7 linked regions of the Homo sapiens genome follow. Changing the gene in region 2 together with the main gene of any one other region gives a genetic interaction. Each region holds a gene or a part of one and is shown on either strand. Other genes may lie near its edges.

Region 1 (3,500 bases), on a different chromosome or scaffold from region 2:
GCTGGAGGTGACGGCGGCCTGCTGCTCCTTGAGCGCCACACTCACCTCACCCTTAACGATGCGCTGTACCTGTGCTAAAATGGACTCCTGCAGGCTGCAAAGGGAAGTGAGTGAGGTGAAGTGGACAGGGAGCCTAGTCTGGCCTTTCTCAAGCCCACCACCTTGCCCAGTACTCTGCCCACACACCTGCCCACAGCCACATGCAGCTGGTGCTGCACCTCAGCACGAACACTGCCGGCCACGGTGGCTGCCATCTGCTCAGTGGCACTCTGCAGTGTGCTGACCAGGCCCCGCAGCTGGGCTAGCACAGGCTCCCTGGCCTCCTGTTCCCGTGCCTTCCGGCTCTTCATGTGGCTTTCTAGCTGCTGCAAGTCTGAGGGGTGACCACAGGGACTATAAGAGGAACAGTAGGAAAGAGGATAACCCCTCCCACCTTGGGCCATATGACCCCACTCACATTCCTGTGTCCCCAGCCGGAAGCTATCATTGATTTGCTGGAACATGGCCTGGCAGCTCTTCTCAAAGGCCGGCAGCACCACACTCTGGAAGGCTTCCCGGTAGGCAGCCTGCATCGGCCCTTGTAATGTGTCTGCAGCTGCTCGGGCGATGGCATCAGTCAAGTTCTGGGGTTAGAGGGAGGGGCCAAGTTGAAAGCCTGAGCCCAGCCTGGCCTGACTAGGCCCAGGAACCACCACCTCCACCCACATCTTGGGCCCTATAGCACCTTGGACTTGAGCAGCTTGGAGATGTTCTCTTTCATGCTGCCCTCCACAGCTGTGAGCTTGGTAGCCACTGAGTTGCTCAGTTGGCCTGCCATAGGCTCCAGACTCCTTGAGACACCTGGGAGAGGGGAAGAGGGTGAGGTGGAGCCATGAGAAGAAGCTTGACAGGTACCCCACTCCCACCTGAACCACCCAAAGGGAGTCTGCATGCAAAACTCACATGGAGGGACTGTCTTCTTGATCTCATCCCGTATGCTGCGCTCTAGCCGCCCAGCTACAGCTGACGACAGTGCTTGGGACAACTGTTGTGTCAGCTGCTCCTGCAGCTGCCCTCCCCGCTGCTGCCCCTCAGCCAGTGCTCGCTCCAGCCGCCGCTCTGCGCCATAGCTAAGGAACGGGCCTGGAGCAGGTCGTGTACTCCTTCCCAGGCCAAGAATGCTGCCCCCGTCCCTATGCCATGTTGTGCTACCAGTCTCAAGGATACGTTCCTGCTCGTGCCGAGTCTCAAGGGCACGTTCTACGTGGCCTGTGACTGTGCTCTGCAGGCCTTCGAGTTGGGTACACAGACGCTGCAGCAGCTCTTCCTGGCTGTGCCGCAGCTCTGCCAGCTCTCTCTGCTGTTGCCAAATTAGTGCTGGCCAGTCCTCAGGGGGCTCTGCCACCTGTCAGTAGCACTGACAGTCACACGATGCCTGCCCCACCTATTCCCACACACCAGACCAGGGAATGGCCCAGAGCCCTTCTCCACCCGCCCAGGGTGAAGTTCCACAAGTACAAAGTGGGCTCATTCACTTACCTGGTGCTCTGTGAGCCGGGATCCCATGGCTGCATCCCTGCCATAGGCGAGAAGCACCTCAGGCTATGTGAGGCAGCCTAGAGACCACCCTCTCCCTCCCTAGGATTTCTCCCTACCCATCATCCTTCTTGCTTTTCCTCTTGAGCTTGGGTGAGGTTCGAGGGGATCCCTTGGTCTTCCAGTCCTTGGCAGGCAGCCGTGGAGCAGGAACTTTGGTGCCAAAGCCTCCTGAAGCAGAGGCAAGGCTGGCCACCTCATCATCATGGTCACTGTGGGAAGGGGAAGGAGGAGTAAGCCCCTGCCCACTTGCTGCCCATCCCCCCATGAGGGCAATGGTGTAGAGTGGCTCCCACCTTTGCTCAGCACTGGCATCCTGGCTGTCACGTTGCTGCAGCAGGTGATATGGTGGTCGGTGGAAGGCCAGGCTCTTGTGCTTTTCCTGAAGGCCATTCCTGGGGCTGGGAGGACAGGCCAACTTAGCCATGGATGAATCTATCTGAAGCCCCTCCTGCTAGCACACTTTTCCCCTCCCAAGCTCCTCACCTTTCTGCCAGGGTGCTGCAGGTCTCACGAGTAATGTCAGGTGCTGTGGGCCAAACCTGACTGTCAGGAGTCGAGGCCTCCTGGGTCAAGGCTGCCTCCAGGAGGGAGGGGGTATTATGCCGATCTCCATCCCCAGGGCCTCCATCAAGCCCGAGCTGGGGGCCGAGCTCGGGCCCTGGCCGGGGCCGTGGGGACAGCAGGTGCAGTGCCGAGGCGGCTGAAGCCATACTGTCTGGCTCAAGGCCCTCTGGTGCAGAGGAGCCAAAACCACGGGACAGGGCCTCAGATGCAATCTCAGGGATGTCCTGGGACAGGGCAGTGGAAGCTGAGGAGATGACATCAGGGGAACGAGTGCGGCTAGGGGAGGCTTGGGGTAGCCCCAGGGGCTCCACTTCCTGCAGCTCCAGGGACAGTGCAGAGGTGGCAGTAGGCACCTGAGGTGGGCCAAAGATGGGGGCTTAAGTGACAGGAAGTGAGGCAGAGATGGGGGGCACAGAGACGAGGCATTAGTATTAGCAGTAATGAGAGACAGGGCAGCAGGGAAGTGGGGATACAGGTCAAAAACGAGGCCACAGCCAAGAAGAGGAGGTGGGGACAGGGAGGCTGAGGAGACACCCACCAGGAAACACAGGAGGGTGAAATGACCTCAGGGAAACACGGACCATGTCGGGTAGAGCAGGATCAGCAGCAGGGGGCTGGGAGGAGCCCACCACCCACCTTCCCTGCTGCTGCCCACCTGCTCCCCACACTTCACACACACACCCAGTCACACACCTGGCCCGGCCCCTTGGGAGTCAGTTTGTCAGCTGGGGCTGGGAGCAGGCCAGGCAGGAGGCCACGCGGGCTTGCCTGAAGGCTGCCACTGCTGCTCATTGTCAGGCTGCCATCCAGCTGCAGCTTGGGGCTCAAGGTCAGCTCCTCAGGTGGCCTGGTGGGGGAAGGCTGAGGTGTCAGCAGCCAGAGCTTGGCATCATCTGGTACCAGCCCCTGCCATCCTCCATCTCTGACCCTTGCCTCACCTGGTCAAGGAGGGGTCCACAGCTGAGGTGCTGCTCATGGCAGACACAGCTGTAAGGGAGCTGCTGCTACTGCTGCTGCTGCTGCTGCTACCGCTGCTGCTGCTGCTGGGAGAGGCAGTGATCTGGGGAGATGCAGGAAATAAGACCTGTGGCCTGTGGCTGAGGCATTCCCAGGTCCCCCTACCCTGGGAGAGTACCTGCTGCAAGGAGGCGCTAGGTGTCATGAAGGCGTCAGGTGTCATCAACTTGGGCTTGGTCTCACTGCTCAGACTGAGGAAGTCGGCAGGTGCAGGCAGCTCCACGATTCGTCGGAGGTCAGGCTGGGAGCCGTGAGCGGCTGACCCCAGGCCCTCAGAGCCCAGTTCGGGCCGAGACTCTCCAAATGCTGCAGGGCAAGTTGCCACTTGAGTTAGATCTCAG
Region 2 (3,500 bases):
CAGCACCAGGTTGAGCTCACGCTCCAGCGTCTGGCGCACCTCCACGCTCATGAGCGAGTCCAGGCCCAGGTCCGCCAGTGAGCTGTCCAGGTTGACAGCAGCCAAGTCGCGGATGCCTGGAAGGGATGCGCCGGGTCGGCAACTCCAGAGGGGGCATGGGGACGGCCTGTATGCGGCAGGGCTGACACCCAGGGGTGCGTGGGCTGTGCATCTCCCAAAGCACCACCACCACAGTGACACCTGCGCCCGCACCCTGGCTCTGCAGATGGGGAAACTGAGGCGCACAGGGGCACGACTGCTATGTCCCAAGACCCTGATGCCAGCAGGGGAAACACCTGGCGCGGCTCCTACTGGGAGTGCTCACCCAGGATGTGTGCCACGGCCTCCACCAGGTCCCGCTGGCTGTCCCTGTCCCTATAGGCCGCAGCCTTCTCAGCCAGCACAAAGCTGCTCAGGACCATGTGGGGCTGGTTCAGGAAGAGGTCCAGCACCTCCAGGCAGGACGCCATGCGCTGGGGCAGCGTGCCACTGACGATCGTGTCGTTGGTGCTCATCGTCTCCACCAAAATGCCCACGTCGCCGATGGCGCCCCACTGCACGGCCAGGCCTGTGGGGGAGGGGGCAGGTGGGCAGAGCTGCGGGGAGGTCGGGGTGGGGAGTGGCCACTGGGAGAGGGTGGGGTGGGCAGGGCTGCGGGGAGAAGGTGGGGGTGGGGAGTGGCCACTGGGAGAGGGCAGGGTGGGCAGGGTCGAGGGGAGAGGGTGGGGCCCACCTGGGAGGCCTTCGTGCCGGCGTTTCTCACAGATACGCTCCATGGCGGAATTGGCAAAGCCGTAGTTGCTCTGTCCCGCATTGCCACGCCCGCAGCTCACAGAGGAGAAGACCACAAAGTAGTCCAGCTCAGGGCACGCCTCTCGGGTCACCCTGTGGGCACGCGTGTCACTCCCCATTGGCCAGCATCCCCAGGAGCCCCCAACGTCCCATCCCCAGGAAACGCCAGAGAGGGCTGTCAACAAACCACCTTGGCTCCCACGGCCCTGAGCCCAGAGCCCGGCAGAGGCGGGAGCAGGGCTGTGCGGTACCCACCTGTCCAGGTTCAGGGTGCCGCTGTACTTGGGCTTGCAGACGTCCTGGAAGAACTCTGGGGTCTGGTTCTCCAGCAAGCCATCTCTCAAGACCTGGGGGAGGCATCCTCAGCACTCCCTGCAGCTCCAGGGCCTCACCCGTCCACCCAGGGTCCCCCCCTTGGTCTTGGGGCTTTTGAGGGCCCCATTTGGGGCCTTCCCTCACCACGGCCAGGTTGAAGACGCCGCCCACGGGCCCAAGCTGCGCCGCCTCGGCAATGAGGCCCCGGGCCCCCTCCAGTGAGCTGATGTTGCTGGTGGACACCTGCACCTGTACGCCCTGGCGCCTCCACCGGCGGACCTGCTTGGCCTGGTAGCCTGCGGGACACAGGACTGTGGGCTGGACTGGGCCAGGGTACGGTCTCTTCCCTACACGCCGGGCTGGGGAAGTGGGGAGCAGCCGCAGAGCCCCATCCAGCAAGCCCCCCACAAGATGGAGGGGGACAGACCCCAGGCACCGTGACAGCCCACAATGGTGGGCTGCAGAGAAGGGCTCAGGGGCCCGGGGCTGTGCCTGGCCCAGGCTGGTCCACAAGCACCCCTGCCGACTCACCTGTCCGGATCCCGGAGCGAGAAGTCAACACGAGCTTCTGCACCCCACGCTGTATCAGCCACTGCGCCAACTCCAGGCCGAAGCCACCCAGACCACCAGCGATGATGTAGCTCTTGTGGGCCGGGCAGAAGGTCTTGGAGATGGCCGACATCAGCTTGGGTTTGGCCCCCTTCAGCACTGCCTCCGGCTCCTCCGCAAGCACCTGCGTCCAAGCAGCACCCACCGGCTCAGGCACTGCCTGGGGACCAGAGCCTGGGGTGCCCGAGGCGCCGGGACTCCTCCCCTCACCTGCACGACGACTTTGCCAATGTGCTTCCCTTGGGCCATGTAGCGGAAGGCGTCCTCCACCTGGGCCCCATGGAACACCGTGCACTTGAGGGGCCGTACCACCCCATCCCGGATGCCGGCCTGCACAAGCGCCCACACCTCCCGCCAGTCAGCACTGCTCTCGTTGAAGAACGCATCCAGTAGGACCCCGTGGAATGTCACGTTCTTCAGGAAGATAGCCATGCCTGCGGGCAGGGGCCGTGCTCACCCAGGGCCTTCCACAGGTCCACCCACACCCATCCATGCCCACCCCCGCCCAGGCGCTGCCGGCCTCACCGAGCGGGTGGTTCTGAGAAAGGTCGAATTTGCCAATTTCCAGGAAGCGACCGTGCGTAGCCAAGCACCTCACGCTGGCCTGCAGCTTCTCTTCCGCCAAGGAGTTCAAGACCAGGTCAACGCCTAGGGGGCCAGAGGGGCCAGACAATCACACCCACTGCAAGCCCAGCCACCACAGTCCAGAGGGCCAGACCCTGCTTCTCCCTGGGCCGGAGGCTAGGCAGGAGGCAGGTGGGGGCTGTGGGGGCCACTCACCCTTCCCGCCCGTGTGCCACAGCACATGCTGCTCGAAGGATGTGTCCCGGGAGTTGGCGAAGCTGGTGCTGTCGAGCTGGGGGAACCTGGCCTGGAGGTACGCCCGCTTCTCAGCCGACCCTGGTGAAGAGAGGAAGCGCGGCTGGTGAGCCAGGGCGGCGGGGCCAGGAGGGCAGCGGGAGGCACCGGGGGCGGGGCCTTACCCACGGTGGTGAAGACGCGGCAGCCCAGACTGAGGGCGATGGCGATGGCGGCCTGGCCCACGCCGCCCGAGCCCGAGTGGATGAGCAGCGTCTCCCCGGGGCGCACCCGCCCACGCACCACCAGCGCGTAGTAGGCCGTGCTGTAGACGACAGGCACCGAGGCCGCCTCCTCCAGCGTCCTGGGGATGCAGCAGGTGGGTCAGCACAGGCCTGGCCGCCATCCACGTGGGGCCCAGGCTCACACCCTCGACACACTCACCAGTTGGAAGGCACATCCCAGAGGAAGTCCGGTGACAGCAGGACAGAGGTGGCCAGGCCCTTGGCAGGCACCAGTCCCATCACACGCTTGCCGCTGGCGTCTCGGCCCGAGAACTCCATACCTAGCAGGCTGTCCTGGGAGGTCCACTTCCCTGGGGGAGACGGCACTGAGCCCCTCACCGCCTGCCCTTCCCTCCCGAGGGGCTCCCAGGCAGGTCCTAGCTGCTGGGGTCTCTGCTCCCCGGCCCAGTCCACTCCCACGGCCCCATGCCACCCATACCTGGGATGGCATCAGGGGACAGCTTGCCAGTGGCCAGCATGATGTCGCGGAAGTTGAGGGAGGCGTAGTAGACCGTGCAGAGCTGGGCGCCAGGGCAGGTGGGCTGGGCATGGCGCAGCGAGGAGCAGACCCAGCGGATGGAGGACAGGTCCCCCCGGGTGAGGGTGCTCACAAAGGCATGTGCCGTCGGCTCCTCAGGCTTGTCTAGGGAAACAGGGAGGTGG
Region 3 (3,500 bases), on a different chromosome or scaffold from region 2:
GTGTTCTCATCAGCCACAGATCAAGGAAGTTATGTAACAGACAACAAAAAAGCAAGGGAGAGCCAGTACAAGTAAGGATTGTCACTAAAATATTCAGTGCAACTGATGAAGAAGAGTTGAATTTCCAGATGCTCTTAAAAGGGAAGGTGGGCCGGGCACGGTGGCTCATGCCTGTAATCCCAGCACTTTGGGAGGCTGAGGCGGGTGGATCACGTGAGGTCGGGAGTTCGAGACCAGCCTGGCCAATGTGGTGAAACCTTGTCTCTACTAAAAATACAAAATTAGAGAAGCGTGTTGGTGCATGCCTGTAATCCCAGCTACTTGGGAAGCTGAGGCAAGAGAATCACTTGAACCCAGGAGATGTAGGTTGCAGTGAGCCGAGATCATGCCATTGCCCTCTAGCCTGGGCCACAAGAGTAAAAATCTGCCTCAAAAAGAAAAAAAAAAGGGGGAGAAGGTGGGAGACTGCTCTATGTACACATAAAGGGTTTCAGAATCATGTTTTGTGAAAATATTTAAAAGGATTAGCACTTAACAAACATTACTTCTTTTGTACTTTGAAAACTAGTACGTCACAAAATTATGAAGGCTCCACATAAATTAGTTTCAGTTCTGTCCAGCAAGGGGCCATTAGATGATGATGGTCTATGGTCAGTGGTGAATCAGCAGTAGCATGGTCTAGAGCAGGGGGTCTAAATTTGAATTAGCATCAGGATTACCCAGAGGGTTGGTAAAATGCAGATTGCTAGGCCCACCCTCAGAGATTCTGTTTGAGTTAATACAGGATGGGGCCTGGGAACTTGCATTTCTTACATTTTCCCAGATGATGCTGGTACTGCTGGTACAGCCACTGCACTTTGAGAACTGTTGGCAAATAATACAACACAGTACAGTGCAGTGTTTCTTAACTTTGCCTTTACATTAAGCATCACCTAGGAAGCTTTCAAAAACCCCCCTTTCCCTGGCTGTACCCAAGACCAATTAATTCAGAATTTGGGGACATGAGCCCTGACATCAGCATGTTTTTTTAAGTCTTCCACTGATTCCAATGAGCTGGCAAGCTTGAGAACCACTGATATGTGGGAAGATAGACTTTGTGTCCATAACTGGTTGTTAGGAAGACACATTTTGTAAACCACTGAGCAGAACCATTGGTGTGCTGTGGATCCTCAAAATATATTTTTTTCTTCCCCTATTTTCTTCAAAAGTGAATTACAAGAGACCTAAAAACGTGAAATCTAATTTTTTTGCCAGAATATATATCTATAGCTTTTTCATGAACTGAATTCTAGATCTGTAGATTACCAGTTTAAAAGGGCATAAACAAATTTCAGTCCTATTTTTCTACACTGTATGGCGGAAATAATGTTATTTATAAATCTGAAATCTATGAAGTTTGGGGTATATATCACTTATATATGTTGGAGGTATATTTTATCATTCAATGCCATTTTATTGGTATAATTTGGAAGGTTTTTTTTAATATAAATTCATTTAAAAGTTAGAAAAAGTATATCCAACCATAAGGAAAAAAGAAAGATGAGTAGGTAATTAAATTTGTCTAGAGCAGTGATTCTTAAAATTGGTCCCTGGACCGGCAGCATCATCAGCATTACCTGAAAATTTGTTAAAAATATACAATCTCAGGCAGGCCCCCACCCCAGATCTAATGAATCAGAAATTCTGGAGGTAGGACCCAGGAATCTGCATTTTAACAAGATTTCCAGATGATTTTAATGCACACTCAAGTTTGGAAATCACTGGTCTAAAGTATTTATTATTTCCATGCATCTGTAAGAAGATCCAAAGGGGTCAAAAACACTGTTAGTCCAATGTGCATTTGTACAGTTGCTATATAGACCCACATTGCTCTAATAATAACTATGCTCTTGTAAACTCTACCCAAAGTTTATTATCCTTGCACCATTAAAGCTTAACAGTAAGAGGAAAATTAATAGATATGGAGTATATCTGGGGGGATTTTATTCTATAAATCTTCCACTATCAATTGTAATCTATTTCCATTTTCTACTCAAGAGAGAATTAAAACTATGATACTTGACTTATGAGAATAAGAATAAGGAAAAACAAAAACCCATCATGTGAGGTTGGAAGTGGGGAGAGTATTCCCAGGTCCGACACTAACCTTGAATTGTCCTCTTGAAGAATGCCTTGCAGGCTTCACATGATGCTACCCCATAGTGGTACCCAGAAGCGATGTCACCACACACTAAACACAGTCTCTTGGGCATCGAGTTGAGCATGTATTCACACTTGGTCTGGGGATCTTCAACAATGGTGCTGGAGCAGTCATCATACAGTTTCCTGACAGGCCCACTACCTCCCAGGATAGGAGCAGAAGGGTAGAGAGGTGGCGAGTCAAGTCCGTTCTGATGGCCATTCATGGTTGAACTGTAGCTCCCACTGGCGTCTGAAGAGCCACCAGGGCTGTGGTGGTTGACGCTGTCCGTCAGGGAGGCTGGGCTGGAAGGTTCCGTCTTGATGAAGGACGAACAGCTGGAATCAATGTGTCGATCTTTGTTTGACATTCTGCAGAGAAGCCTGAGATTGAGGAGATACAAAGAGAGACAGAAAGAGGAGAGAGTGTCAAGCACAGAGACCAAAAGAGGTAGAAACAAAAGAGATGGTGAAAAATAGAGAAAGGGAAAGGGAAAGGTAAAAGGAGGAAAAAAACAGAATTCATATGTTAAAGACATTGCTCTTTGAGAGAGTTTCCTAAGGGCTAGGGACTACACATCATTCATTCTCTAGTCAATACTTCTTGTTCTACAAGAAGGTAATCAGCATAAGGGCATGACAGGGTTACAACAAAGGGCCCAGACAGGCCATAAACAAAAGCTCTAAAGAGTCCGATTGCTTTTATTTTACCTTTCTCTTGGAGAACCAGTGTCAATATCTAACTCAACTCTAGATTCTAAATTTATCAATGGAAGAGGTGGTGATTTGCAAAGTCTATACCATTTCTAAAATTGTATTTATCCTCATTCTACCTTTCCTTCCTCATTCTGATGCTGCAATCATTTTATTATGAGCAGAATAAAACTTTTATTTTCAAGACTGAACAGATGATCCTCAGCTCTGTAATTACTGTTTGTCAGCACGCTTCCATAAGCATAACTGTGTCTTATTGATCTGACTAAAACACATAGGGAATATATCCTCAATCACTTTGTTTCTTTATTTAAATTGCTCTATTTCATAGCCATTTGGCAATATAGAAAGACATCAAGTATAAAATTCCAGCCAATATTTAAAGATTATTCCTAGAGCCTGCAAAACTTAGTGACTCATCACCAACATTCATTAATAAATACGTGCATGTGTTTCTTATGTGTGATTTGCCATTATTTAAGAGATGAATCAGTAAAAGCCATTTGAGCCTTCAGTATACCTGTAAGTCCACAAATCTGATATTATATGTATATTATCTGATACTATAAAATCTGATGTTATATTTACATTCAGTAAAGTAGAAATGT
Region 4 (3,500 bases), on a different chromosome or scaffold from region 2:
TCGGACTCCTGGGCTCAAGTGAGCCTCCCACTTCAGCCTCCCAAGTAACAAGTACCCCAGGCGTGCGTCACCATGCCAGGCTAATTTGTAAATTTTTTGTGGAGGTGGTGTCTTGCTATATTCTCTAGGCTGGTCTTGAATTCCTGGGCTCAAGTGATCCTCCCACCTTGGCCTCCAAAAGTGCCAGGATTACAGTTGTGAGCCCCTGCGCCGGCTGTAATACATTTTTTGTCAATGCTTGTGTTTGGTAAATAAATATTGAATGCATAAATGGGAAAGAATTAAACCAGAAAGAGAAAACAGTATTTATTGAGCACCTTCAATGAGCTTGCTATTAATATGCGTCCATTCTCAAGCAGTGAAATGGAAAGTCCTCTAGTAATTTCTTTCTTTGAGATGGAGTCTTGCTCTGTCACCAGGCTGGAGTGCAGTGGCACGATCTCGGCTCACTGCAACCTCCGACTCCCTGGTTCAAGCAATTCTCCTGCCTCAGCCTCCTGAGTAGCTGGGATTACAGGCACGCACCACCGTGTCCAGCTAATTTTTTTTTTTTTTTTTTTGTATTTTTAGTAGAGACGGGGTTTCACCATGTTGGCCAGGATGGTCTTGAACTCCTGACCTCGTGATCCGCCTGTCTCAGCCTCCCAAAGTGCTGCGATTACAGGTGTGAGCCACTGCGCCCGGCCTAGTAATTTCTTTTAGTAGTTTTCAGTTTATAATCCCAGGGTTTAAATCTCATATATTAGTTGACATAGGAAAAAGTCATCCTTCTGGGAAAGGGGGAGAATGCCCAAATCTTTATAGAGCACTTTTTAAAATAAAGAGATTCAAAATAATGATAACAATTATTCAACAACCACCATCATTAGGAAAGTTTATTGTATTTTAAAAAAGTAAACACTAGATGATACCTGCAAAGAGTTCTTTCAACTATTTAAGAATACAGGGTATTATTATTATTTCCATTTCCACTTAAGAAAATAGATTAATCATTTGCTCAAGGTCACACAGTAAATAAAGGGCAAACATGGGGACCAGGACTCAGGGCTTCACACTAGCAATGCTCCTTCTTTGAGCATTGCCACAATTGAATCCCAAAGGTACTGGAGCAGGAGTTGTGGTAAGGAGGTTACAGGGCTTAGAGCTATGACCCTAAACAACTTTTTTTTTTTTTTTTTTTTTTTGGAGATGGAGTCTCGCCCTGTCATCTCACTCTGTTGCCCAGGCTGGAGTGCAGTGGTGTGATCTCAGCTCACTGCAACCTCCTCCTCCCGGGTTCAAGCAGTTCTCCTGCTTCAGCCTCCCAAGTAGCTGGGATTACAGGCACGCACCACCAAGCCCAGCTAATTTTTTTTGTATTTTTAGTAGCGATGGGGTTTCACCATGTTGGCCAGGCTGGTCTCGAACTCCTGACCTCAAGTGATCTACCAGCCTTGGCCTACCAAAGTACTGGGATTACAGGCCTGAGCCACTGTGCCTGGCCCCTAAACAATTCTTTGATAAAGCCAGTGGTTCTGTTTATTGGCATTGTGCTTCCTGTTCCTATACTATTTCCCTTTTTATGTAGCTCTTCCTACTAATTTCTTCCTCCTTTTAATTTTATTATTATCAATTTGTTTTCCTTTATCCTCTTGTCTCTCTTGTCCTCTCCAGTGGCATGATGATGTTGTCTGCCATATCTTTAGTTTTAACTTAGCGGAGTAATATGTAACATGAAAGAACATAAAAGAGATGTTTGAAAACAATACTGGGAATTCATATTTACCAAGTACTACGAAATATGTGACAAAGCCTTCTCAGATTTGTTTATCTGATCCTTTTCTTAAGCTACTTGTTTGTATGATAGAGAAAAAAAGTTCCATTAACGGCATACTGGAAGCAGCAGTTTTCCAATTATTATGAGGAGTTGACACCTCTGTGCCTGTGTCTAGGCTAATTTAGTCTGGACTGTTAACAAAATGAATCAGTAGTCCATATGAAGACCTTCCTGGCTGTTTTTAAGCTACCGCTGAAAATCAGACAGATAAAATGTATTTATATTTTTTACAATTAGGAGTTGAAGTTATATTCTGTAATATTAAAATATTTTTTTCTTTACGATTTTAGACCAGTCTGCTTAGTTTTAAGTGAAATTCCTTTTATGTCTACTTGGTTTTTACTTGTGTCAACATTTAGGTAAGTCATATCAATTTCCATATATTTTCAGTATAATTCTTGTAAACTAATTTAAAACTTTTTTATGAAGTGGTTATGGTTTGAATTGATAATTCTCTTGTGATTTTTAAAAATTTTCCTTTACAGTATGCTACCTCTTCTATTGAAGGATGAACTCCTAATGCCCTCTGTTGTGACAACAATGGCATTTTTTATAGCTTGTGTAACTTCCTTTTCAATATTTGAAAAGACTTCTGAAGAAGAACTGCAGTTGAAATCCTTTTCCATTTCTGTGAGGAAATATCTTCCATGTTTTACATTTCTTTCCAGAATTATACAATATTTGGTAAGTTCAATTTTTAAGAAATGACACATTTTTCAGCATGTCACTATTTTAAAAAATTATTGAAGTAGTGATTTTCTTTTATACCTTTTTGAGATATAATTCACATAAATCCACTCATTTAAAGTATACAACTTAGTGGTTTTAAGTATGTAAACAGATTTGCACAACTATCACCATCATCTAATTTTACATTATTTTGTCACTCCCAGAAGAAATTCTGTACCCATTAGCATTCATTCCCAATTCTATTCTCACTCCTAACTCCCTTCCTTGGACAGCCAGTTTCTGCCTCTTTAGATTTGCCTACTTTGGACATTGCATATAAATGGAATGTATTAGTCTGTGATAGCTGCCATAACAAAATACAACAGAAATTTATTTTCTTACAGTTCTAGAGACTAAAAGTTCAAGATCAAGATCAAGGTTCTACCATCAGGGTTGGTTTCTGGTGAGGCCTCTCTTCCTGGCTTGTAGAAGGTCTCTGCTTTATGTGTCACACATGGAGAGAGACCTCTGTTGTCTCTTCCTTTTCTTGTAAGGACACCAGTACTACTGGATTAGGGCCCCATTCTTATCATCTAATTTAACCTTATTTACCTCCTAAAAGGCTATATCTCCAAATAACAGTCACATTGGGGGTTAGGGCTTCAACATATGAATTTTAATTCAGTCCATAACATGGGATAATAAAATTGTGGTCTTTATGACTCGGTTCTTTCACTTAGTGTGTGTGTGTGTGTGTGTGTGTGTGTGTGTGTATTTATTTATTTTTTTGAGACAGAGTCTTGCTCTGTCACTCAGGCTAGAGTGCAGTGGCATGATCTTGTCTCACTGCAACCTCTGCCTCCTGGATTCAAGCAATTCTCCTGCCTCAGCCTCCCTAGTAGCTGGAACTACAGGCATGCGCCACCATGCCCAGCTAAATTTTGTATTTTTAGTAGAGATGGGATTTCAGTATGTCGGCCAAGCTGTTCTTGAACTCCTGACCTCATGATCTGCC
Region 5 (2,380 bases), on a different chromosome or scaffold from region 2:
CGCCAGTACTTACTTGTATTATGACACTGCTGGCAATGGCTGCTCTTAGACTCTTGAGTGTTTGGGGCCAATTTTCAAAAGGTCCTAATCAAGAACACAAAATTCCTGCATGTGATTTGAATTAGGTTCAAAATGGTCAAATACAAGTTCAGTCTGAAAATGCACACGCCTGTAAGAGTGTATCTTAATTGTACTCAAAGTTAGCTCCTTACTCCTCAGGAAGTGGAAACCCCTGAATGAAACTGACTTTGTGTGTGAATTTCTCACTTTCTGAATCCAGTTCAGTGTGTCCAGAGAGGCATGTGCTTACAACATAGATAGTTTTTTTCAGATGTAGTTGTATTTGTTAAGATTTTTTTGGTTGTAAATGATAGAAACCAACTCTAATTTGAGCAAAAGCCAGCATTTATTGGCTCATAACTGGGAATTCTAAAGGGTCAAGTTGGAGTCAGGTATAACTATATGTACAGGGACTATAATCAATCATGTCATCAATCACTTCTCAATTTTTCTCTGTCTCACAGTTTTGAATTCATTCTCAAGGCATGGCCACCGGCAGTTCAAGGCGTACCTCAGCCTTACAGTTATAATCTTCCATAGCTCCAGCAAAAGTCCCAGGGGAGACCTGATTAACCCACTTGGGTCACAGAGCCTTGTCAGAACCAGTCATTGTGGCCAGGAGCATGGAGTGCTCTGATTGGTCAATCTGGGTCACATGCCCACCCTTGTTGAGGGTAAGGAAGGAGGTTTAGGAATTATCTTACCACATGGAATTGGTTACCTATAAGAATGAGGAGTTCTGATGTCGAGAGAAAGAACAACAGGTAACTTTTATTGGGCAGACAAAAACTAGAACTGCCAAAGTCAGTGGATTTTGCTTTACTGAGTCAGATTTCTTTAGAGCTTATGGGGAAGGGAATGGGTTTTGAAATTTTTTCTTTTAAGAAGTGATGCATAGATTTAAAAGTAATCTAATAGGTTAATTTATGGTATGTGAATTATATCTGGTAAAACTGTTTATTTTTGTAAGGTCATTAATCTGCATTCTCCATTATCTTCATTTTCAGAGGATGTGAAGCCACTGAAAGCTTGACTCAGGGAAAAGAAATGTGGGACCATCACACACATGAAAATGGCTATAATCCTCACTGTATTTTCTTGTTCTTCTTGAAAAATATAGGATTTGATTCCACAGTTCTTCTTGACTTTTTGATTTCATCAGAAACCTGTTTTCTTGAATATTTTGTTAGATATTTAAAATTACTGCAAAAGGACTGGGATAATTTTTTCACCATTTGCAATAACTTTGATGCAACTGAATCTAAATATGACATAAGTATTTGTGGCTGTGTCCCCTCACTTGTCCAAGACCAAAGCTCCAACCAAACAATACCCCATCGTTTGACTGCTCCTCATAGTCACAGAGATGTGTGTGCTCGGCACTCCTGGGCTTCCGATGCTCCCTCTGAACCACTGAAAGCTGTGATGTCCAAGGGGGCTCACACCATGTGTGCTTCTAGTCTGTCTTCCCCCCGGGCCTCTCAAAGTCTGGTAGATTACGACAGCTCTGACGATTCTGACGTGGAATCCACAGAGCAGTGTTTAGCTAACAGTAAACAGACATCTTTACACCAGCAAGCAACTAAGGAGATTCAGGATGCAGCTGGGACAAGCAGGGATAAAAAAGAATTTAGCCTTGAGCCTCCATCAAGGCCTCTGGTTCTGAAAGAATTTGATACTGCCTTCTCCTTTGATTGTGAAGTAGCCCCAAATGATGTCGTCTCTGAAGTGGGAATATTTTACAGAATAGTAAAATGCTTCCAGGAACTACAAGATGCCATCTGCCGTTTGCAAAAGAAAAATCTTTTCCCATATAATCCAACTGCACTTTTGAAGTTGTTAAAATACATAGAGGTGATAAGTAATAAAACTATGAACACTTTGTAAAACATTGACATTTTATTTTCCAGGTATTGTTTTTCCTTAATATAAATTATGTCTCAATGAGGTAATAGTATAAAATCATCACCATAAAAGGGTTTTCTTTTTTTTTTTTTTTTTTGAGACAGAATCTCATTCTGTCGCTCAGGCCGGAGTGCAGTGGCGTGACTCGACTCACTGCAACCTCCACCTCCTGGGTTCAAGCAATTCTCCTGCCTCAGTCTCCCGAGTAGCTGGAATTACAGGTGCCCGCCACCACGCCCAGCTAATTTTTGTATTTTTAGTAGAGACGGGGGTTTCACCATGTTGCCAGGCTGGTCTCAAACTCCTGACCTCAAGTGATCCGCCTGTCCGCCCTCCCGAAGTGCTGGGATTACAGGCATGAGCCACTGTGCCCGGCTGGGTTTTCTAGACAAGTTCTTACTTTTTGCCTTATTGG
Region 6 (3,500 bases), on a different chromosome or scaffold from region 2:
ATTACTGGTAGTACACCAAACTCAGGTTTGAATCCCAGCTTAACCACTTTAGCTTTGTAACCTTGAAGCACACAACCTAATCTGAGCCTGACTTTCCTCATCAATAAAATGGAGCTACCTCAGAGCTATTGTGCTGATTAAATGTAGCAAAGTATATAAAGCATTTAGCATGGTGCCAAACACATAGTGAGGACTAAAAAAAACCCTCATAAAAGCAAAGTCCAAATATCAGGAATATCAAGAGCTTAGTTACGGACATGTTAAATCTGTAAGTAGAGATGGTAATTAGGCAATTGGATATGGGTCTGGAGTTTGGAGGAGGGAACAGGGCTGGAGAGAAAACTTTTGGGAGTCAGACCATAGTTGGTATTTAAAGCCAAAGATGAAGGAAATAAGCCTAGTTAAGTGTAAAAAGAGAAGACCCAATGACAGAGTCATTGGGTACTGCAACATGTACTCATCAGACAGCAAAGTAGAACTGAGAAAGGAGTAATCAATGAGGTAGACAGAAAACTGAAAGTCATCATTAGATTTAGTGATATGGTATACTGCCAGGGGCAAAGGTCATATTAGAATGTCTTGAAAGAAGAAAAATGGGCCAGGCACCGTGGCTCACGCCTGTAATCCCAGCACTTTGGGAAACAGAGGCGAGCGGATCACGAGGTCAGGAGATGGAGACCATCTTGGCTGACACGGTGAAACCCCGTCTCTACTAAAAATACAAAAAAAATTAGCCGGGCATGGTGGCGGGCGCCTGTAGTCCCAGCTACTCGGGAGGCTGAGGCAGGAGAATGGCGTGAACCTGGGAGGCGGAGCTTGCAGCGAGCCAAGATCGTGCCACTGCACTCCAGCCTGGGTGACAGTGCGAGACTCTGTCCCAAAAAAAAAAAAAAAAAAAAAAGAAGGAAGGAAAATGTTCGATAGTAAATTAAGACAATTTGTTAAAGAAATTATGCTTAAAAAGCCAGAAGGAAATGGGGCAGTAGCTAAAAGTAGAAACAGGATCTAAAGCAGCGTTATTTTTATTTTATTTTATTTTTTTGAAGACAGAGTCTCGTTCTGTTGTTCTGTTGCCCAGGCTGGAGTGCAGTGGCGTGATCTCAGCTTACTGCAGCCTCTGCCTCCTGGGCTCAAGCAATTCCCGGGCTCAAGCAATTCTTGTGCCTCGGCCTCCCTAAGTGCTGGGATTACAGGCATGAGCCACCACCTCTGGACCTAAGAAGAGCTCTTTTTTAAGGACAGAATAAATAATAGCATAAATGCCAATGGGGTGGTTATAACAGAGACAGGGAAATCGATGATGTAATAGAGAAAAGGAGAACTGCTGTAGCATTATCCTTAAGGGAGACAACATCAATTGAAATACAGAAGTGAGGGAGGCTGGCCTTAGCTAGGAGAACAGATATAATTTATCTCTAGTAACAGAAGAGAAGATGTACATTCATAGATGCTGGTAGATGAATAGATGTTTCAGAGACAGAGCTTATGAAAATTCTCTTATTTATCTTCTCAGCGCTTCAATTTTTTTCAGAGAAATAGGGAGTTAAGTTCAGCAACAGAGAGTGAAACAGGGCAGAAAGTATTACAGTATAGTTTTGAAGAATAAGAAAAAACTATGCAACTATCTAAGAGTGGGAGAATGAATGGGCTAAAGAAATATAGGCTGGGTGCAGTGAGTGGCTCACACCTGTAATCCCAGCACTTTGGGAGGCTGAGGTGGACGGATCATTTGACCCTGGGAGTTCGAGACCAGCCTGGGCAACATGGCAAGACCCTGTCTCTCCAAAAAAATAAAAAATAAATAAAAAATAAATTAATCGGGAATGGTGGCATGTTTCTGTGGTCCTAGCTACTCCAGGGGCTGAGGTGGGAAGATCACCTGAGCCCAGGATTTTGAGGCTGCAGTGAGCAGTGTGCGCCACCACACTCTAGCCTGGAGTAAAATTAGCTGGCAGATTTTTCTCCATGTAAATTTGGCCCCATGAGTGCAGGTAAACACATAGAGTAGGTGAAGATTTAGGGATAATCAGGATACTGGTAGTCAAACAAGTACAATTAAGAGAGAGACCAGTGGCCGGGAGCAGTGGCTCACGCCTGTAATCCCAGCACTTTGGGAGGCCGAGGCGTGTGGATCATGAGGTCAGGAGTTCAAGACCAGCCTGGCCAAGATGGTGAAACCCCATCTCTACAAAAATACAAAAAAATTAGCCAGGCGTGGTGGTGGGCGACTGTAATCCCAGCTACTCGGGAGGCTGAGGCAGGAGAATTGCTTGAACCCAGGAGCAAAGATCGCGCCACTACACTCTAGCCTGGGCAACAGAGCGAGACTCTGTCAAAAAAAAAAAAAAAAAAGAGAGAGGACCTCTCGCTCTTTGAGAGTGATAATGATGATCTGACAATGACAAAGCAGAGTTAAATAGGGAAGTGAATACATAAGGGGGATAAGGGAAAATGAAAAGGTGACAAGATCAATAGATCTTGATTGATCCTGGTGGAGACTGTATATTAAAGGGAGTAAGGTAGAAAGATAGACAATTGTATTTGGAGAGTAAGATATTACAAGTAAAAGTTTCAGAATTACTACAGCATAAAACCAGATCCTTGGGACTACTACATCTAATAAAAAATTTCAGTTCAGAGTAAGAATCCATATGTCAGAATTGAATGGCAGATAAGAGGATTAAAGGTAGATGATGAAATAAAGCTTAAGAATCTCTAGTTTTTTTCTGTATAATGTCAAAAACCATTAGAGAAGTCTAACTCCAAATTTAAGAAACATAATAATTGAGGTTTTTTTTTTTTAAAGGATGCAATCTGATACATAAAATAGTTGTTGTTTTTTTGAGATGGAGTCTCACTCTTGTCACCCAGGCTGGAGTGCAGTGGCACGATCTCGATGCACTGCAACCTCCACCTCCCGGGTTCAAGCGATTTTCCTGCCTCAGCCTCCTGAGTACCTGGGATTACAGGCGCCCACCACCATGCCTGGCTAATGTTTGTACTTTTAGTAGTACAAGCTGAAGCAGGTGGATCAGTTGAAGTCAGGAGTTCAAGACCAGCTTGGCCAACATGGTGAAACCCCGTCTCTACTAAAAAGTACAAAAAGTAGCCAGGCATGGTGGCGCATGCCTTTAGTCCCAGCTACTTGGGAGGCTGAGGCACAAGAATCACTTGAACCCGGGAGGCAGAGGCTGCAGTGAGCCGAAATTGCACCACTGCACTCCTGCCTGGGTGACAGAGCAAGACCTTGTCTCAAAAAAAAAAAAAAAAAAAAAAAGACTCAACCCTTATTTTCCATGATATCCAGTTTGGCCACTTAATTGTTCAGGATGTAGTCATGGAATCTAGAGTCCTATACTTTTCTGCTTACAAAATTAAATATATAAAGTAACTTAAGCTAAAATTAAGTGCCATTTTCTTTAGTTTATCCCTTGATGCCATGATTAACAACTTCTGCATTCCCCAAACATGGAGACGTCATTACTTTAAAAAGAAAAAAC
Region 7 (3,500 bases), on a different chromosome or scaffold from region 2:
GCCACGGCCACCTACCTTAGGGCCAAGTAATAATAACAATGTAGCCACTTTTGGAGCTGGATCTGTTGGTAATTCACAACAATTGAGACCAAATTTAACCCATAGTATGGCAAGCATGCCACCACAGAGAACATCAAACGTAATGATCACATCCAACACAACTGCACCAAACTGGGCCTCTCAAGAAGGAACAAGCAAACAGCAAGAAGCCCTGACGTCTGCAGGAGTCCGCTTCCCCACAGGTACACCTGCAGCCTATACCCCAAATCAGTCACTGCAACAGGCAGTAGGTAGCCAGCAATTTTCCCAGAGGGCAGTGGCTCCTCCTAACCAGTTAACACCAGCAGTGCAAATGAGACCCATGAACCAAATGAGCCAAACACTAAATGGGCAAACCATGGGTCCCCTCAGGGGTCTGAATCTCAGACCCAATCAGCTAAGCACACAGATTTTGCCTAATTTGAATCAGTCAGGAACAGGGTTGAATCAGTCGAGGACGGGCATCAACCAGCCACCATCCCTGACGCCCAGCAATTTTCCTTCACCCAACCAAAGTTCCAGGGCTTTTCAAGGAACTGACCACAGCAGTGACTTAGCTTTTGACTTCCTCAGCCAACAAAATGATAACATGGGCCCTGCCCTAAACAGTGATGCTGATTTCATTGATTCTTTATTGAAGACAGAGCCTGGTAATGATGACTGGATGAAAGACATCAATCTTGATGAAATCTTGGGGAACAATTCCTAAAGAAGAAAGGGAAGACAATTTACAAACTCCAAGCACTAAAAGGCAGTATATTACAGAAACTCTGTAGAGGCTGAACTGTTGATGTTCAGGTGGACTACATGAAGATAACATGCTTAAAAATGGAAAGCAGAAAGTAACTGCAGTGATGAACATTTTGGTCCAAATTCTTGTTTTAAATCTTACACCTGAAAGTAAAATATTGGGATCACTTTTCCCTGTCTAAACTCCAGGATACAGTATCCAATTTATCCAAACAGAACTGTGGTGTCAATGTGTAATTAATTGTGTAAAATAGCCTTCCCAAGTTTCTTTTTCCCTGGAAAATAAAAAAGGTAATAGAACTTGTAGTTTATTTAAACCCCATGTCATGAGGAGGTACTAGTTCCAAGCAACAAACTCCTTAATTTGCTCTAATAGATAGGTATGGTTTAATCTTTCCATTGTGTCTTTTCATTTAATTTTCCTGAAGCTTGCAGGATAGATTGAAATGTTATAGGTTTGTTTGGAGTAACCAAACAGTATGCAAATTAAGAAAAAGCCAGAGAACCTAGAAAACATCCAGTGGATTACAGAATTTCTTCCCCATATTCACTCCTCACTTTTACAATTTTCCCACAATCCTCTACTTCAGTGGGATGCTGTGTCTAGTGATTAAACAAAAATATAGAGCTGTGCAATTTGATTTTGGCTTCCACAACGAATATCTGAATCCATTCCAAATGAAATTTTAGATATAACAAAGACTTGTCCTAATCATACTGAAATATTGGTGCACACCTCTCTGCATTAGATTTCACTTTTTTAAAAAACCCAGTGGACATTGCTATAAATAAGATTTATTTGGCTACAAATAACCTGGGATGTTGCTTATTATGATTGATGCCTGCTGGTTTGTTCCCAAGCTGAGTGAAATTGAACCTCGTCCTCCCTACTCATTTTGATGACTGAGGCTGGTTTATAAGAAAAGGAAGTTTGGAGAAGAAAACCGAGATTAGAAAATATCATGTTTTGGTTGGAGATAAGAACCAGGGATGGCAAGTACCAGTGTGTACAAATGTATTTCACGGAGTTTGAAGGAACGCATAATCAAGAGGGAAAACAATTTGTCCTTCATTGGACGTATTATTTGGATTTGGGTGAGCAACAAAATGGAATGTGGTCTGTTAGGAGCATTCTGTTTGTTCTTTTGTCCCTGATGTGATGAATCATTGCCACATGCTAGATGGACTCTTCATATCCAGGTTTTGTCCCTCAGGGCTGAGCACTGTATTAAAGAGTTTTTGTTGAGTCATTTAACCTTAGTGTCCACATCCAGATCAGCTGTAAAATGGGGAAGACGTGTGCTGATTTGGAATGAATGCAAAATATCACTATCATTTTCCTAATTACAGAGGAGCAAAGGTTATCTTCAGCCCTTTCAGTTCTATGCTCACATATTCAAATATCAAATGTAATTTAGCTGAAGTTATTTAATAATCAAGTCTTTCAATATCTGTTCAAAGAAAAAGAACACACTTTGAAAATTCTGCAAAGCTGTCTCCCAGTCTTTAAAATGTCTGGAAGCACTCTCCTTCTTTACAATACCAACATCACTGGCCCAGAATCTTCCCTGTGCTAGTTTGTAAATATAAATAAATTACTTGTTTTGTAAACTTTTGTAAAGAATATTTTGGTAGAAATACTTCAAACATATTCTTTGGGTTATATTTATACATATGTGAAATAAATATACTATCAAAAGGTTATATTTTATACAAAAAGTAAATTGCTACCTTTTGTATGCTAATATGCAAAGTTTTGTATAATATGATGGTTTATTTTTAGCTCTACACTTAAACCATAGGTGGTTGAGTGGGAACTTTTGAAAACTATCAAGAGGCTTGTTAGACAAATTTATATTCTGAAACCTCAATAAGAAAGCATTCCAGGTTTCAATCCTTGTTTTTTGTCCTGCTCCCAAATTCTTTTTTAAACCCATAGTTCTTGTGTCTTATTTGATTCTTCTGCTGTGCACATTGTATTGGTCCTTGTTGCATGTAGTCTACTGTGTGTTTTCCGATTTTATAAGGCAGCATTTCTCCATACAAAAAGAAAAAAAATGATGTACATATAAACGCTTTTGTTGTATGGCTCCTCCATGTTACTGTATATATCTGCCAGCACTTCCCAGTTACACTCCTGTGAGTCAGCTTATTTTTACCCTAACATAAATAGTATGTTTTGTAGTAGTTATCAAATTTAAGAGATAAAGCAATCAGAATGTTTGGATTTTCTTCTATCTTAATGTGAATTTCATAATTAATGTCTATTTATTCAGCTATTCATTAAAATACAGGATTCTTTGGGAAAACATGATGTGTAGTCTGTAGTTTGTTTGTTAGCAGCCTATTACCAAAGGTGACATAATTTTCCTGAAAGCAGAGATAATGACAATTTGATAGACATATTTAGCTAAAACCTTAAGATTTACAACTTAAGAGCTATTGGAATACAATCTGCCATTTTTAGAAATACCAGACCACTTAATTGTTGGCATTGTTTATCATCCTGACATAGAGAGGAGGTAGAAGCAATTTTTCTTTTTTGTTTTAAGTCAAAGACTAGAAAGCAGTTTAAGCAAGTAATTCGGTCTTGGCTTTGTATTAAGCCCTATGAAGATAAATAACTCTGCTCTAAGTGAATGCGCTAATGTTACCTGCATTACTGTAAACGTACCATAACGGTAAAGATTTCAACTTGTAAAACAAGTATG

What was found.
Region 1: changes in FASN (region 2) and EDC4 together harm fitness more than expected from each alone (negative genetic interaction), as found in Homo sapiens cells (one large-scale study listed by BioGRID).
Region 3: changes in FASN (region 2) and ESRRG together harm fitness less than expected from each alone (positive genetic interaction), as found in Homo sapiens cells (one large-scale study listed by BioGRID).
Region 4: changes in FASN (region 2) and ALG6 together harm fitness more than expected from each alone (negative genetic interaction), as found in Homo sapiens cells (one large-scale study listed by BioGRID).
Region 5: changes in FASN (region 2) and LINS1 together harm fitness less than expected from each alone (positive genetic interaction), as found in Homo sapiens cells (one large-scale study listed by BioGRID).
Region 6: changes in FASN (region 2) and RLF together harm fitness more than expected from each alone (negative genetic interaction), as found in Homo sapiens cells (one large-scale study listed by BioGRID).
Region 7: changes in FASN (region 2) and MAML2 together harm fitness more than expected from each alone (negative genetic interaction), as found in Homo sapiens cells (one large-scale study listed by BioGRID).

What each region holds. Positions count from the first base shown.
Region 1 is NC_000016.10:67,879,552-67,883,051, reverse strand, and holds part of EDC4 (enhancer of mRNA-decapping protein 4), read right to left. Parts: intron 3,466-3,500; coding exon 3,278-3,465; intron 3,203-3,277; coding exon 3,081-3,202; intron 2,990-3,080; coding exon 2,836-2,989; intron 2,496-2,835; coding exon 2,062-2,495; intron 1,977-2,061; coding exon 1,872-1,976; intron 1,788-1,871; coding exon 1,635-1,787; intron 1,556-1,634; coding exon 1,519-1,555; intron 1,385-1,518; coding exon 1,207-1,384; coding exon of another isoform or gene 1,099-1,206; coding exon 943-1,098; intron 841-942; coding exon 725-840; intron 624-724; coding exon 458-623; intron 374-457; coding exon 187-373; intron 95-186; coding exon 1-94. UniProt on the Homo sapiens protein: In the process of mRNA degradation, seems to play a role in mRNA decapping. Component of a complex containing DCP2 and DCP1A which functions in decapping of ARE-containing mRNAs. Promotes complex formation between DCP1A and DCP2.
Region 2 is NC_000017.11:82,081,237-82,084,736, forward strand, and holds part of FASN (fatty acid synthase), read right to left. Parts: intron 3,481-3,500; coding exon 3,277-3,480; intron 3,149-3,276; coding exon 2,998-3,148; intron 2,918-2,997; coding exon 2,739-2,917; intron 2,656-2,738; coding exon 2,536-2,655; intron 2,404-2,535; coding exon 2,281-2,403; intron 2,190-2,280; coding exon 1,966-2,189; intron 1,880-1,965; coding exon 1,678-1,879; intron 1,443-1,677; coding exon 1,291-1,442; intron 1,179-1,290; coding exon 1,087-1,178; intron 925-1,086; coding exon 773-924; intron 608-772; coding exon 365-607; intron 117-364; coding exon 1-116. UniProt on the Homo sapiens protein: Fatty acid synthetase is a multifunctional enzyme that catalyzes the de novo biosynthesis of long-chain saturated fatty acids starting from acetyl-CoA and malonyl-CoA in the presence of NADPH.
Region 3 is NC_000001.11:216,674,930-216,678,429, forward strand, and holds part of ESRRG (estrogen-related receptor gamma), read right to left. Parts: intron 2,563-3,500; coding exon 2,147-2,562; intron 1-2,146. UniProt on the Homo sapiens protein: Orphan receptor that acts as a transcription activator in the absence of bound ligand. Binds specifically to an estrogen response element and activates reporter genes controlled by estrogen response elements.
Region 4 is NC_000001.11:63,426,627-63,430,126, forward strand, and holds part of ALG6 (dolichyl pyrophosphate Man9GlcNAc2 alpha-1,3-glucosyltransferase), read left to right. Parts: intron 1-2,106; coding exon 2,107-2,175; intron 2,176-2,301; coding exon 2,302-2,500; intron 2,501-3,500.
Region 5 is NC_000015.10:100,568,805-100,571,184, reverse strand, and holds part of LINS1 (protein Lines homolog 1), read left to right. Parts: intron 1-524; exon of another isoform or gene 525-734; intron 735-1,067; coding exon 1,068-1,947; 3' UTR 1,948-2,380.
Region 6 is NC_000001.11:40,202,887-40,206,386, reverse strand, and holds part of RLF (zinc finger protein Rlf), read right to left. Parts: intron 1-3,500. UniProt on the Homo sapiens protein: May be involved in transcriptional regulation.
Region 7 is NC_000011.10:95,976,196-95,979,695, reverse strand, and holds the end of MAML2 (mastermind-like protein 2), read left to right. Parts: coding exon 1-748; 3' UTR 749-3,098; downstream 3,099-3,500. UniProt on the Homo sapiens protein: Acts as a transcriptional coactivator for NOTCH proteins. Has been shown to amplify NOTCH-induced transcription of HES1. Potentiates activation by NOTCH3 and NOTCH4 more efficiently than MAML1 or MAML3.